Linked DNA regions of Homo sapiens: regions 1 and 3 are each reported to be linked to region 2. Evidence: microRNA targets listed by miRTarBase, many of them from high-throughput screens and not tested one by one. Region 2 holds a microRNA gene; each other region holds the end of a gene's coding sequence.

What was found. Region 2 holds the annotated microRNA hsa-miR-3686 (AUCUGUAAGAGAAAGUAAAUGA, at 2,148-2,169, shown strand). A microRNA usually pairs through its seed, bases 2 to 8, with sites in the 3' UTR of a target mRNA and lowers its output. Matches are read on the target gene's strand: a 7mer-m8 pairs with bases 2 to 8, a 7mer-A1 pairs with bases 2 to 7 and ends in A, and an 8mer does both.
Region 1: miRTarBase lists TNRC18 as a target of hsa-miR-3686. Seed matches in the 3' UTR shown: 7mer-A1 at 2,811-2,817.
Region 3: the mRNA of PLBD2 is a reported target of hsa-miR-3686. Seed matches in the 3' UTR shown: 7mer-m8 at 2,289-2,295.

The regions. Positions count from the first base shown.
Region 1 is chr7:5,304,635-5,308,634 of GRCh38, forward strand. TNRC18 (trinucleotide repeat containing 18) reads right to left here. Exons shown (of 30, transcript NM_001080495.3): 30 at 2,177-3,678. The coding sequence ends at 3,472. It overlaps SLC29A4 (solute carrier family 29 member 4), which reads left to right. Exons shown (of 11, transcript NM_153247.4): 11 at 1-2,278. Among named protein-coding and RNA genes, the nearest start is that of SLC29A4, 24 kb to the left of the region's middle.
Region 2 is chr8:129,482,084-129,486,235 of GRCh38, reverse strand. It overlaps MIR3686 (microRNA 3686), which reads left to right and starts at 2,094; the gene lies at 2,094-2,179. All of the region lies in intron 1 of CCDC26 (CCDC26 long non-coding RNA), which reads left to right.
Region 3 is chr12:113,388,273-113,392,272 of GRCh38, reverse strand. PLBD2 (phospholipase B domain containing 2) reads right to left here. Exons shown (of 12, transcript NM_173542.4): 12 at 644-3,814. The coding sequence ends at 3,647. Among named protein-coding and RNA genes, the nearest start is that of SDS, 14 kb to the left of the region's middle.

The DNA of each region.
Region 1 (4,000 bases), not on the chromosome of region 2:
AAGTAGCTGGGATTACAGGTACGCACCACCACACCTGGCTAATTTGTCTTGTGGAGACCGGGTTTCACCATGTTGGCCATGCTGGTCTCGAACTCCTGATCTCAAGTGATCCATCTGTCTCATCCTCCCAAAGTGTTGGGATTACAGGTGTGAGCCACTGCACCCGTCCTGTGCCTCATTTTTGTTTTTTCTTTCTTTACAAGACAGGCTCTCGCTCTGTCACTGAGGCTGGAGTGCAGTGGTGCCATCATAGCTCACTGCAGCCTCCACCTCCTGGGCTCCAGTGATCCTCCCACCTCAGCCTCCCAAATAGCTGTGAATACAGGCGCGTGCCACCACGTCTGGCCAGATTCTTTTATTTTGTGTAGAGATGGGGTCTTGCTGTTGCCCAGACTGGTCTCAAAGTCTGGGCCTCAAGTGTTCCCCCTGCCTTGGCCTCCCAAAGTGCCAGGATTACAGGTATGAGTCACTGCGCCTGGCCTGTTCTGTCCTTAGCTTCCCCAAGGAATGGGGCTGGTCCAGGTTTTGATGTGGGTCCCGTAAAGGAGGGCACGAGGGCCACCTATGCTCTGGCAGGCATCCTCCCTGGGGCCCAGGTGGGCGGCCACTTGGGCCAAGACTGCGCCAGGTGACACCAGAGTGTTTCCCAGAGCCCATGCCGGGCCCTTCCCTTGCCCGAGGCCGGCTGGCTGCCCTCCATGGGTTACCCTCTTTGCAAAGCCCCGAATGTCCTCTGCAGGCCACCCACACTAACCAGGTCAGTCACTGGGCAGCCAGACCCCCACCTATAGCTTCCCTAGGCCCCAGTGCAGAGATGCCGTCCACCCCCATCTAGGTGAGGGCTTGGGGCCACTCTTAGCATTAGTATCATTTTCTTCTAGTATCATTTTGTGGTAGGCATGGCTGGAAATGTGCAGCTTTGCTTTTTTTTTTTTTTTTTTTGGAGGAGTTTCGCTTTTGTTGCCCAGGCTGGAGTGCAATGGCTCGATTTCAGCTCACTGCAACCTCTGCCTGCCGGGTTCAAGCGATTCTCCTGCCTCAGCCTCCCGAGTAGCTGGGATTACAGGCATGTGCCACCATGCCCGGCTAATTTTGTGCTTTTAGTAGAGACGAGGTTTCTCCATGTTGGTCAGGCTGGTCTTGAACTCCCGACCTCAGGTGATCCACCTGCCTCAGCCTCCCAAAGTGCTGGGATTACAGGCATGAGCCACCATGCCTGGCACTGGTTTTTTGAGATGGAATCTCGTTATGTCACCCCAGCTGGAGGGCAGTGGCACGATCTCAGCTCACTGTAACCTTTGCCGTGGGTTCAAGCGATTCTCCTGCCTCAGCCTCCCAAGTAGCTGGGATTACAGGCACGCTCCACCACACCCGGCTAATTTTTTTGTATTTTTAGTAGAGATGGGGTTTCACCATATTGGCCAGGCTGGTCTTGAACTCCTGACCTCAAGTGATCCGCCTCCCTTGGCCTCCCAAAGTGCTGGGATTACAGGCGTGAGCCACCGTGCCCATCCAACTTAACTTTTAATTTTTTCTCATGTAAATTTGTTCAATTTCTTTTTTTTTTTTTTTTTTTTTTTTTGAGACAATCTCTGTCACCCCCAGGCCAGAGTGCAGTGGTGCGATCTCAACTCACTGCAACCTCCACCCGCCGGGTCCCTGTGATTTTCCCACCTCAGCCTCCCGAGTAGCTGGGATTACAGGTGTGGGCCACCACACCCGGCTAATTTTTGTATTTTTAGTAGAGACGGGGTTTCACCACATTGCTCAGGCTGGTCTGAAACTCCTGGCCTGAAGTGATCCTCCCGCCTCGGCCTCCTAAAGTGCTGGGATTACAGGCACGCTCTACCACACCTGGCTAATTTTTTTTTGTATTTTTAGTAGAGATGGGGTTTCACCATATTGGCCAGGCTGGTCTCGAACTCCTGACTTCAAGTGATCCGCCTGCCTTGGCCTCCCAAAGTGCTGGCATTACAGGCGTGAGCCACTGTGCCCAGCCGATGAGCTCATTTAGATGGCTGCATGGGGTCACCGCCCCTGCACGCGTGGCACCCAACTTCTTCCAGTCGAATCCTGCTTCTTGGTGCCCTGATATGGCAGAATGCCCCCAGACACCACCCCTACTCCAGCCCCTGAAATAAACCACTCCAGACAATTTTATTTTTCCAATTAAATCTTTTCTTTTTTTTTATGAAAAAAGATCACACAGAATTTGCCAACAAACAAAATTCCAAAAGAAACATAAAAAAAAAAACCAATAATTCCCCCAAAAAACAAACCCAAAGTCTGGCTTTTCCTTCCCTCAAGATTGTCTGGTTGAGGCCTTGGTTTCCCTTGAAGGCTTGGGGCCTGGTTAAGTGCTTTCTGGGGCCCAAGCAGGGACCCTGGGCTTGGGCCGGCTCCTGCCTCTCCCTCTTCTCTCCCTAACAAACACTTCTCTATCCTGGGGGGTGAGTACAGTACACTTGGTGGGGTGGGCGGGGGGTGTGCTGGGGACTGGGAGGCCGGTGAAGCCGGTGCTAGACACTATAATCTAACAGGAAATAAAAAATAATATTCTGCACGTCAGAATGTTTTTTTTTATAATTTCATAGCTATTTTTCACAGTTTTAAAAAGTTTATATATATATTTATATATATTTATCTTTATATATATAATTAAAAAGTTGACTCCATTTAAAGGCTTATGATACAGGGGCGGGGCGAGTCTCTTGGTACAATAAAACTGTACAGGTTAAGAAGTGCCACCTCCCTCCTGGGTGGGGAGGGGCCAGGCGTGGCCGGGCGACAGTTTCAGCACCATTGGGGTTTTCTGTAGTGTGAGGGTTTGGACCAGGGTGGGCCTGTGCCGGGCCCTCTCCACCTGGTGCCTTTGACAGACACTCCGGGCTGCAACCCCACCCGGCTCTGTTCCCCAAGTCTAGGCCATCCTGAGAGGGTGGGGGCAGGGCCCCTGGCACAGTCAGGTAGGCCAGCTGGCATCGGGCTGCCCTGTCCCATGCACGGTGGGAGGCCTTGGGGTGGGCTCCATGCTAAGGGTGCTTGGGAAGCCCAGAGTGAGCGTCAGTTTGGTTCCTTAGAAGCGCCCCTCCCCACCGAATCCCCAGTCTGCATGGACCTGGGGGCACCCGGGCCCCCACGCAGCAGCAGCCTGGAGGGCCGGCCTGGCCAAGTGCTTGCAACGTGCTGGGCAGGAAGGGCCGGTCCGGCCATACCCTGATAGCTAAGAGGGGCCCCTGTCCTGGGGGCACTGAGGGGTTGGAAGGTGGGGCTGGAGGCATGTGCACATGCGTGCACACACGTGCATGCACACACACTCACCCGGGCATCCACGTGCACACCTGGCCCCATGCACACGCCTGCAGGAGCGCTCGCATGCACACAACGCACGTGGTCTCCGCGCCATGGCAGTGATGGAGATGGGTCCCTGGCCGCCCTCGGGGCACAGGTGGCCCGCAGGGCCCGGCGGGCTCAGCAGAGCACGGGCACGCCGTCCGTGGAGAAGATCATGCCCGTGGTGGGCTCGTAGGTGCCCGCGAGGTAGTACAGGCCCTCGCTGTCCTGGTACTTCTTGGTCTTCAGCATCTGCTCATACTGCTCCAGGCCCACCACCAGGCACTTGTGCGACACCGTCTGCACGTCATTTTCGTCCACATGCGAGGACTGGTATAGCGCGCGCTGCGGGCACGCGGGGATATCAGGATGGCAGGTGGGGGGCACAGAGGCCGAGGGAGCCCCAGGGAGCCACAGGGACAGAGACAGAAGCAGAGGGAGCCCCAGGGACTGAGACAGAGACCAAGTCAGAGACAGAGGCTGAGTAAGAGACAGACCAACAAAAGAGAGACAGAGACCGAGAGATGGAGAGCAAATGAGAGACAAGGATAGACAGACCAAGAGATCCAAAGACGCAGAGAGACAGAGACCGAGATCGAGAGAGACCCAGAGAGACACAGAGACTGAAAGATAGAGGTTGGGAGAGACCCAGAGAGAGTCAGAGGGC
Region 2 (4,152 bases):
AGGTGAAATGGCACGAAGGGAGCCTCAATCACACTGAGAAGCTCCACATCCAGTTGCCTTATTGTTAGTTAGAGGAAGCTCTGTGCCTCCTGGAATGAGTGAGGGATTAAGGAGAAGAGTATCCACTTTGGGAGCCCGAGGCAGGCGGATCACAAGGGCAGGAGATCAAGACCATCCTGGCTAACATGGTGAAACCCCGTCTCTACTAAAAATACAAAAAAAAAGGAGAAGAGTATCAAAGAGAGGTCTTTTTCTGAAAGGAAATAATGAATTCATGTCTCCAACTGGAGAAACCTTTGAGCAGGAACGGCAACAATGGAACATCTGTGCTGTTCATTCTCTTATCTCCTGCCTATGACAGCCACTGCTAAAACACTATTCTTTCAATCTCTGTGCAAACTCAGAATCATTCTTAACCAGTTCTCCAGTTATGTTATATGTATAGTACTATACATTATATATATAATACATGGTATATATTATATTTATACACCATATATTGATATATAGTATCAATATATAATATATAACATATAATATTTACATGATATATATAACATAATCTATGATATATTACATTTAGCATTACATATATTATAGATAATATATAATAATACACATATAATGTATACTATATTATGTATATAATATGTATAGTATTATATATAATACATATGTATATGTACATATACATGTATATACATATGTGTGTATATATACATATACATATGTATCATATATGATAAATGTATACATACTATATATGTATATACTACATATATGATATATACATTTATATTATGTTATACATAAATATATAATATATAATAATATATACATATGTAATATATTACATATATATATAAAATACAGTCAGAGACAGCAGGTGAAATTTTCTTGCAACTGGGTCAGAGATTGAGTAACTATTATTTACCTGGAGTGTTCCAAACAAACTCTAAATTTCATTTTCCAAAGGTCAAAAACAAATTTCCTTATTCTTGCTTCTTGGTCAACCCCTACACACAGTGGTAAACATTTGTTCCAAATTCTTCCCTCCTGGTCCTTGGAAGGCTGCTTCAGCCTTTGGCATTTGTTTCTGGATAGCCACGACTGGCTTTGTACTCCTCCTGTGCCCTCCTGGCTTTCTGCACATGTTATATCTCTGACTTTCAGCTTTGAGGAAGTAGAATGCTCCTTCCCTTTGGAGAGTCACTGCTCTCCTTACAGACCCGCACACTCAGAGGACAAACCTGCTAAGCCATGGAAATACTCTCTCATTCTCTGCAGTACTAGAGAACAATAAAAGGGGGTGAACAATGGGCATGGGCAACAGCATAGATAAATCTGAAAACCCCCAGGCTGAGTGAAAGAAGCAGATAACAAAAGAGCACATACTGTTTAATTCCCTTTCAACAAAGTTCTGAAAAATGCAAACTACTTTACATAATGAGGATAAACCAGATCATTGTTTTCCTGGGGAAAAGGGAAGGGCAGGGGGAGAGTCCAAAAATGGGAAGGAGAGGAGGAAGGTGGGAGGAACCTTTTGGATTGATGATTTTCCCCGTAATCTTGATTGTGGTGATGGTTTCACAGTGGTATACAATTGTTATTGTCTGATACTTTCGAATTTTGCTTTTAAGCTTTTAAAGGCAAGATAGAGTGACAATTTATCTATTTTTCATTACGTAGCAAAACTATTCTGAACATTTTACCCAATACTCCGTGAAGTATGAGGTTTTCCACTTAGGTTACTGGAAAAAAGAATTATTCCTGGTGCCAGTGTCGTGGCAGGGAATGTTTTCTCTAATCCTTGTTGGTGCTTCCCCCCACCCTCATCTCATAAAGTCTCTGCACGCATGTGCTGATTAGTGCACAGCTAAAGACTCAAGGAGGACTCTGTAGAATCTCTGGTGCCTCTGTTAGGTAGCTCTCTTTGTGGTAGTGCTCTGTTCTTCAAACTTCAGCCATTTTGGTTTCCTGCATTCTCAGATCCATCATCTCAACTCAGTGGGACCACCCAGCTCCATGGGGATTCCTCTCCCTGTGCTGTGGCCTGGAAACTGTCTGTGCGGTCAGCTGGGGCAGTCAGAGGGCTCACCTCATTCATTTACCTTCTCTTACAGATCACTTTTCTGCACTGGACAGTGATCTGTAAGAGAAAGTAAATGAAAGAGGTGAGACTTAGGTTCAATGTCTCAAAAATGTTTCATGTGTTTTAAATGCTGGCTTTTTAGTTGTTTCAAGGGGAAGGTAAATCTAGTCTCTATTACTGTATCTTGACCAGAAACACACATATGCTCTCCTTTTGGATTTATGAAATGGCTTGGGCCATTTGATGAAACATCTTCTGTGGATTCTTCTCTCAGAGTTCAACTGGAACTCTGAGATATTTTCTCATTGGGCTGATAGCACATCTTCTCCTTTCTTGTTTGCATATGTGGTCAGAGAAGGCAGTTTGGACATTGCACCAAACATCTCCCTTGTCTTATGGCTGATAGTATAAGGCAGTATTCTCAAACTGAAGGTCTGTAGACTAAATCTAACCCAAAAATGATGTGTGTGTGTGTGTGTGTGTGTATGTATTTTTGCCTGCACAGTGATTAAAAAAGACCAAATTAGTTTTAAACATTAAAACACTGGACTTTTCCCATGGATATCTGAATTCCTGTCTTCTCTTGAAAAGTCAGAAGACCTGATAAATTTGGCTCATGTTCCCACAGAGTACCATTTATCAAAATACACTAGTGGCTTCCCCCTTTTGAAAGGCTGTGCACGCTCCACTTTCACATAGGCTTCCTCAGGCACCCACCTCTCATTTCTATTACTCGACTGGCCCCAGAGGCATGAGGATCTGTGGCCCTTATTGTAGAGATCAAGAGCACAGACTTTGGAGTTCAATTCTCTTCTCTGGCATTTTGATGATCTGACCAGAGTTCTTTCTCTTTCTGCAACTATTGCCCATGCTTCTATAAATGCTCCCCTTCTCCCTTCCTCCTTCCCTCTTCCTCCTTCCCCCTTCCCCCTTCTCCCTTCCTCCTTCCCCCCTTCCCCTTTCCCCCTTCTCCCTTCCTCCTTCCCCCTTCCCCCTTCCCTCCTCTCCTCCTTCTTCTTCTTCTTCCTCTTCCTCTTCCTCTTCTTCCTCTTCCTCTTCTTCTTTGCCCCTTATGTCTATTCTCTACCCTCTTGTGGCCAACTGTCTTGTGGCCAACTGGTCTTTTATGTATTTCTTTTTTTTTTAATATAAAAAGATTCATTGAATCAAGCTATGACAGTTTTTTAAAGCTATTTTAAACTGTTTTAACAACTATATTGAGCTATAACTTACATGCAAGAAACTACACATAGTTAAAGTGTATAATTTTAAATGTTTGGACATAATATACATCTGCAATCACGATAGTGGATATAGGTCAGGCACAGTGGCTTACATCTGTAATCCTGGCACTTTGGGAGGCCAAGGCAGGCAGATAGCTTGAGCTCTGGATTTTTAAATTTTTTTTTCACATCCAATCTCCCTTTAAAAAGAATTTCTTGAGAATATGGTACATATACACCATGGAATACTATGCAGCTATAAAAAAGAGCAAAATCATATCCTTTACAGCCACATGGGTGCAGCTGGAGGCCATTCTCCTAAGCAAGTTAATGGAGAAACAGAAAACAAAATACCATATATTCTCACTTATAAGTGGGAGTAAAACATTGCGTGCTCATGGACATAGAGATGGCAACAGTAGGCACTGGGGACTACTAGAGGTGAGAGGGTGGGGAACAAGGATTGAAAAACTAACTATTGAGTATGATGCCCAGTACCTGGGTGATGGGATTATTCATACCCCAAACCTCAGCATGCAATATACCCAGATAACAAACCTGTAAACATGCCCCCTGAGTCTAAAATAAAAGTTGGAAAAAAAAAGAAACAAATAAAAAGATATTTATATAGACTCAGTAAACCACTATTATTTCTTGTGTGCAAGTGCTTTGTACCAAGAGAACTCAGAAGCCAGAAGCCACCTTAGGTGACAGTTTATGGGTCAAGTTCCTATTCTTGGGGCACTGGGTTTTGTTCAGTGTTGTGGATAATATGATCAGCTTTCTTCAGAAGAGACTGGGCTTGCCAGGTAGTGACAATGTAATAGACTACTGCAT
Region 3 (4,000 bases), not on the chromosome of region 2:
CTAAACAAGAGGGACTTGGGGTGGGACAAAGGCTGCCTCCGCTGAAGGCAGAAGCAGCTGGGGAGGCCAACTTCATTCTGATATGAAGTCCTTCCTACTAAGTCAGAATTATTTCATCACAGACCCAATGGAAGCAAAGAAGTGAGGCCCCCTCCCCTGGGCGTGTGTGAGCTGACACTGGACACCCATCTCTGGGAGAGGGAAAGGGTGGGTGGACTTGAAGTCAATGTCATGCAAACCCTCCTCAAACATGGAGCCCTCTCTTCCAACAAAAGCATATGCTGAAGCCCGTATCATAGATCAAAGAGGAATTACTGGGGCTGGCTCCAGAGCATGGAGGGAACCCCACCCTCAGGGTACTTTCTGGATGACCCCAAGTTCAAACTGAAGTTTAAGAGTCACTCAGGGCTGGGCGCAGTGGCTCACGCCTGTGGGAGGATCGCTTGAGCCCAGGAGTTCAAGACCAGGCTGGTTGGCACAGTGAGACTCTGTCTCTACAAAAAGGAAAAATAACTTGAACCCAGGAGGCAGAGGTTGCAGTGAGCCGGGATTGTGCCATTACACTCCAGTCTGGCGACAGAGTGAGACTCCGTCTCAAAAAATAAATAAATAAATAAAAAGGAAAATAAGATAAAACCACAAGTCAATTCCCAACCCCAGACCCCAACCTTGCTTTATTTTCTCCACGGGTTTACCAGCACTGACACACTGCATATTTCATTTATTTTGTTTACTATCTAGTCAATGTAAACTTCACAAGAGCAGGAATGCTTCTGTCCCTTTTGTTATAAAGTATCCCCGGGACCTCATAACAGTGCCTGGCATGTACTAGGGGTTCAATAAGTGTTTGCTAATAAAGAGATGCTGAGTGCATGAGGCCCCAAGTGGGCTGCATCACATCCCCCAGGGAAACGCTGCTCACACCATTACCCCATTTCACAGATGAGGTAATCGAGGCTCAGAGAGGAGTCCATAGCTAGCTAATAAGAGGTGGAGACAGAATTGAAACCCAGGTCTCTGACTCCAGGGCTGTGTGCTTTCCTCTCTCCAAGCACACAGCACTGGGAGAGTCTTGTCTCCAAGGCAGGCTGCATGAGATCAGACAGGGAGAGAGCCTTTTTTTTTGTATCTGTCTGTATACCACAATATGGCTTAGGAAGGTCTTGGTGGTTAACAAGGCTCCCAAATAGGACCCAGAACACAGGTGCTCAATAAACATCTGGATGGATAGATGGATGGATGGATATGAATGAATGGATGGCTGATGGATAGAAAATAGATAAATATGGATGCATGGGTGGATATTAATGAATCTGCACAGACCCGTGTGTGGATGGATGGGTGATAAATGAATAGGTAGGTGGATGGACGGGTGGGTGGGTGGATGGATGAATGGATGGATGAGTGGGTGGATGGATGGGTAGATGGGTGATAAATGGATAGGTGGACGGATGAGTGAATGGGTAGATGGGTAGATGGATGGAAATGAACAGATGGAAATGGTTGGATGGGTGGATAAATGGTTGGAAGGATGGATGGATGGGTGAGTGGGTAGATGGATGATAAATGGATAGGTAGGTGGATGGATGAGTGAATTAGTAGATGGGTAAATGGGTGGAAAATGAACAGATGGAAATAGTTGGATGGGTGGATAAATGGTTGGAAGGTTGGATGGATGGGTGAGTGGGTAGATGGATGATAAATGGATAGGAAGGTGGATGGATGAGTGAATGGGTGGATGGGTAGATGGATGGAAAAACAGATGGAAATGTTTGGATGGGTGGATAAATGGTTGGAAGGATGGATGGATGGATGGGTAAATGGGTGATAAATGGATAGGTAGGTGGATGGAGGAGTGAATGGGTGGACGGGTAGATGGATGGAAAATGAACAGATGAAAATGGTTGGATTGATGGTTGGATGGGTGATTGGATGGATGGATGGGTGGATGGGTGACAAATAGGTAGGTGGATGGGTGGATAGGTGAGTGGGTAGATGATTGGGTGGGTGGATGGATGGATGCGTTGGCAGATGGGTGGATGGATGAATGGATAGGTAGTTGGATGGGTGGGTGGATGAATGGGTGGGTAGATAAATGGGTGGGTGGATGGGTGATAGATAGATAAGAACTTCGTAAGCCATGCTGTGGTATACAGACCAATACAAAAAAGGATCCCTCCCTGTCTGATCTCATAGGTGGATGGATGAGTCAATGGCTGGATGAGTAAATGGGTGGGTGGGTAAGTGGATGGAAAATGGACAAATGAGGCCAGGTGCGGGGGCTCACATCTGTAATCCAAGCACTTTGGGAGGCCAAGACGGGCGGATCACTTGAGGCCAGGAGTTCGAGACCAGCCTGGCCAACATGGTGAAACCCTGTCTCTACTAAAAATACAAAATTAGCCAGGCATGGTGGCTCATGCCTGTAACCCCAGCTACTTGGGAAGCTAAGGCAGGAGAATCGCTTGAACCCAGGAAGCAGAGGTTGCAGTGAGCAGAGATTATGCCATTGCACTCCAGCCTGGGCAATAGAGTGAAACTCCCACTCAGAAAAAACAAAAACAAAAAAAAAAGAAGAAGAAAGAAAATGGACAGATGGAGATGGCTGAATGGTTGGATGGGTGGTTGGATGGGTGAGTGGATGGATGATAAATGGATAGGTAGATGGATGGATGGATGATGGAAGACGGATGGGTGGGTGGAAGGCTGTGCAGATGGATGATGGGTGAGTATGTTGGCAGATGAATGAATGGACAGAAGGACAGACAGAGGGCTGCACAGGAGGCTGCATGGGGGATGGCGCAGAACCCAAACCTGAGAGGAGAAAAAGCGCTGACCCCACCTTCCCTGCCACCCCAAGAAGCACAGCATGGGGCCACAGCCGCTCTTGTTTAATGGTGGCACAGCCTGCGGTCTGGTTCCTCCATCAGGGCGCTGTGGGTATGGCCCTGAGGTGAGGGGCAGGCCTGGGGTGGGGTGGGGTGGGGCCTGAGGCAGAAGCATGGGGGCTGACCCTCTGCCTGACATGGAGAGAGGACATTCAGAACCCTCCAGCCACAGATGGCCAGAAACTTTGGTTTGTGTTTGTTTTCAAGTTTCTGTCCTCAAGGAAGCTGCCCAGAAAGGGAGACGAGGGGACTGCTTCCTGAGGGAGCAGAGGGGCCAGAGCTGGGAGGAGCAATGCCAGCCGAAGACAACGCCCAGACAAAGCTCACCAGCTCCAGGGCCACCCGTGGGAATGCAGCTGGGAGAAGGGTGCTGGAACAGGCTCCTTCCACCCCATGGGAGCCCCAGAGTCTGCCCCAGGACCTTCCCAAACCCTCAGGAAGGAGAAGCACGAGGAAGGGGCCCCAGAGGTGGGAATGAGGTTGAGAGAGCAGCAGTAGGAAACAGACAGAAACAGAGAGTGGGAGATTTAGGGCAGGGCAGAAGAGACGCCACGGTGCCCACCCACCTCGGGGGAGAGAGGGGGTCAGTTCTGAGCCCCATCAGGTTCGTGACCCACTCTAGGAGGAGATGACTCAGACCCCAGATCAGAGAACGAAGCCCCCAGGAGGGGCTGGAGTTAGAAGTCCGGTGGCCTTGGGACGGGGGTGACCCTGACGAGGGTCAGCAGGGGCGAAAGCAGCAGAGCAGGGACAGAACTTCAGTCCCATGAAACCTTGACAGGCGCGAACTTCCAGAGGTCTGGCTGGCCCATGTGCAGCAGGCCGCTGAAGGGCGAGGTGCTCCACTGGAACGGGGGCACCTGGTCCCACGTGGGACCGCTGGCCGCCAGCAGGCTCAGGATCCTGGCCAGTGACATGCTGGTCACCTGGGGACAGGGCAGAGCCGCAGCTGAGCAGGGGTCCTGGCCTGCCCCAATCCAGGCACCCAGCCTCCCACCCTGACCTTGACCCCAGAGCCCAATTCTGAACTGTCACTTTTTTTTTTTTTGAGTCTCTGCTCTGTCACCCAGGTTGGAGTGCAGTGACGTGATCTTGGCTCACTGCAACCTCTG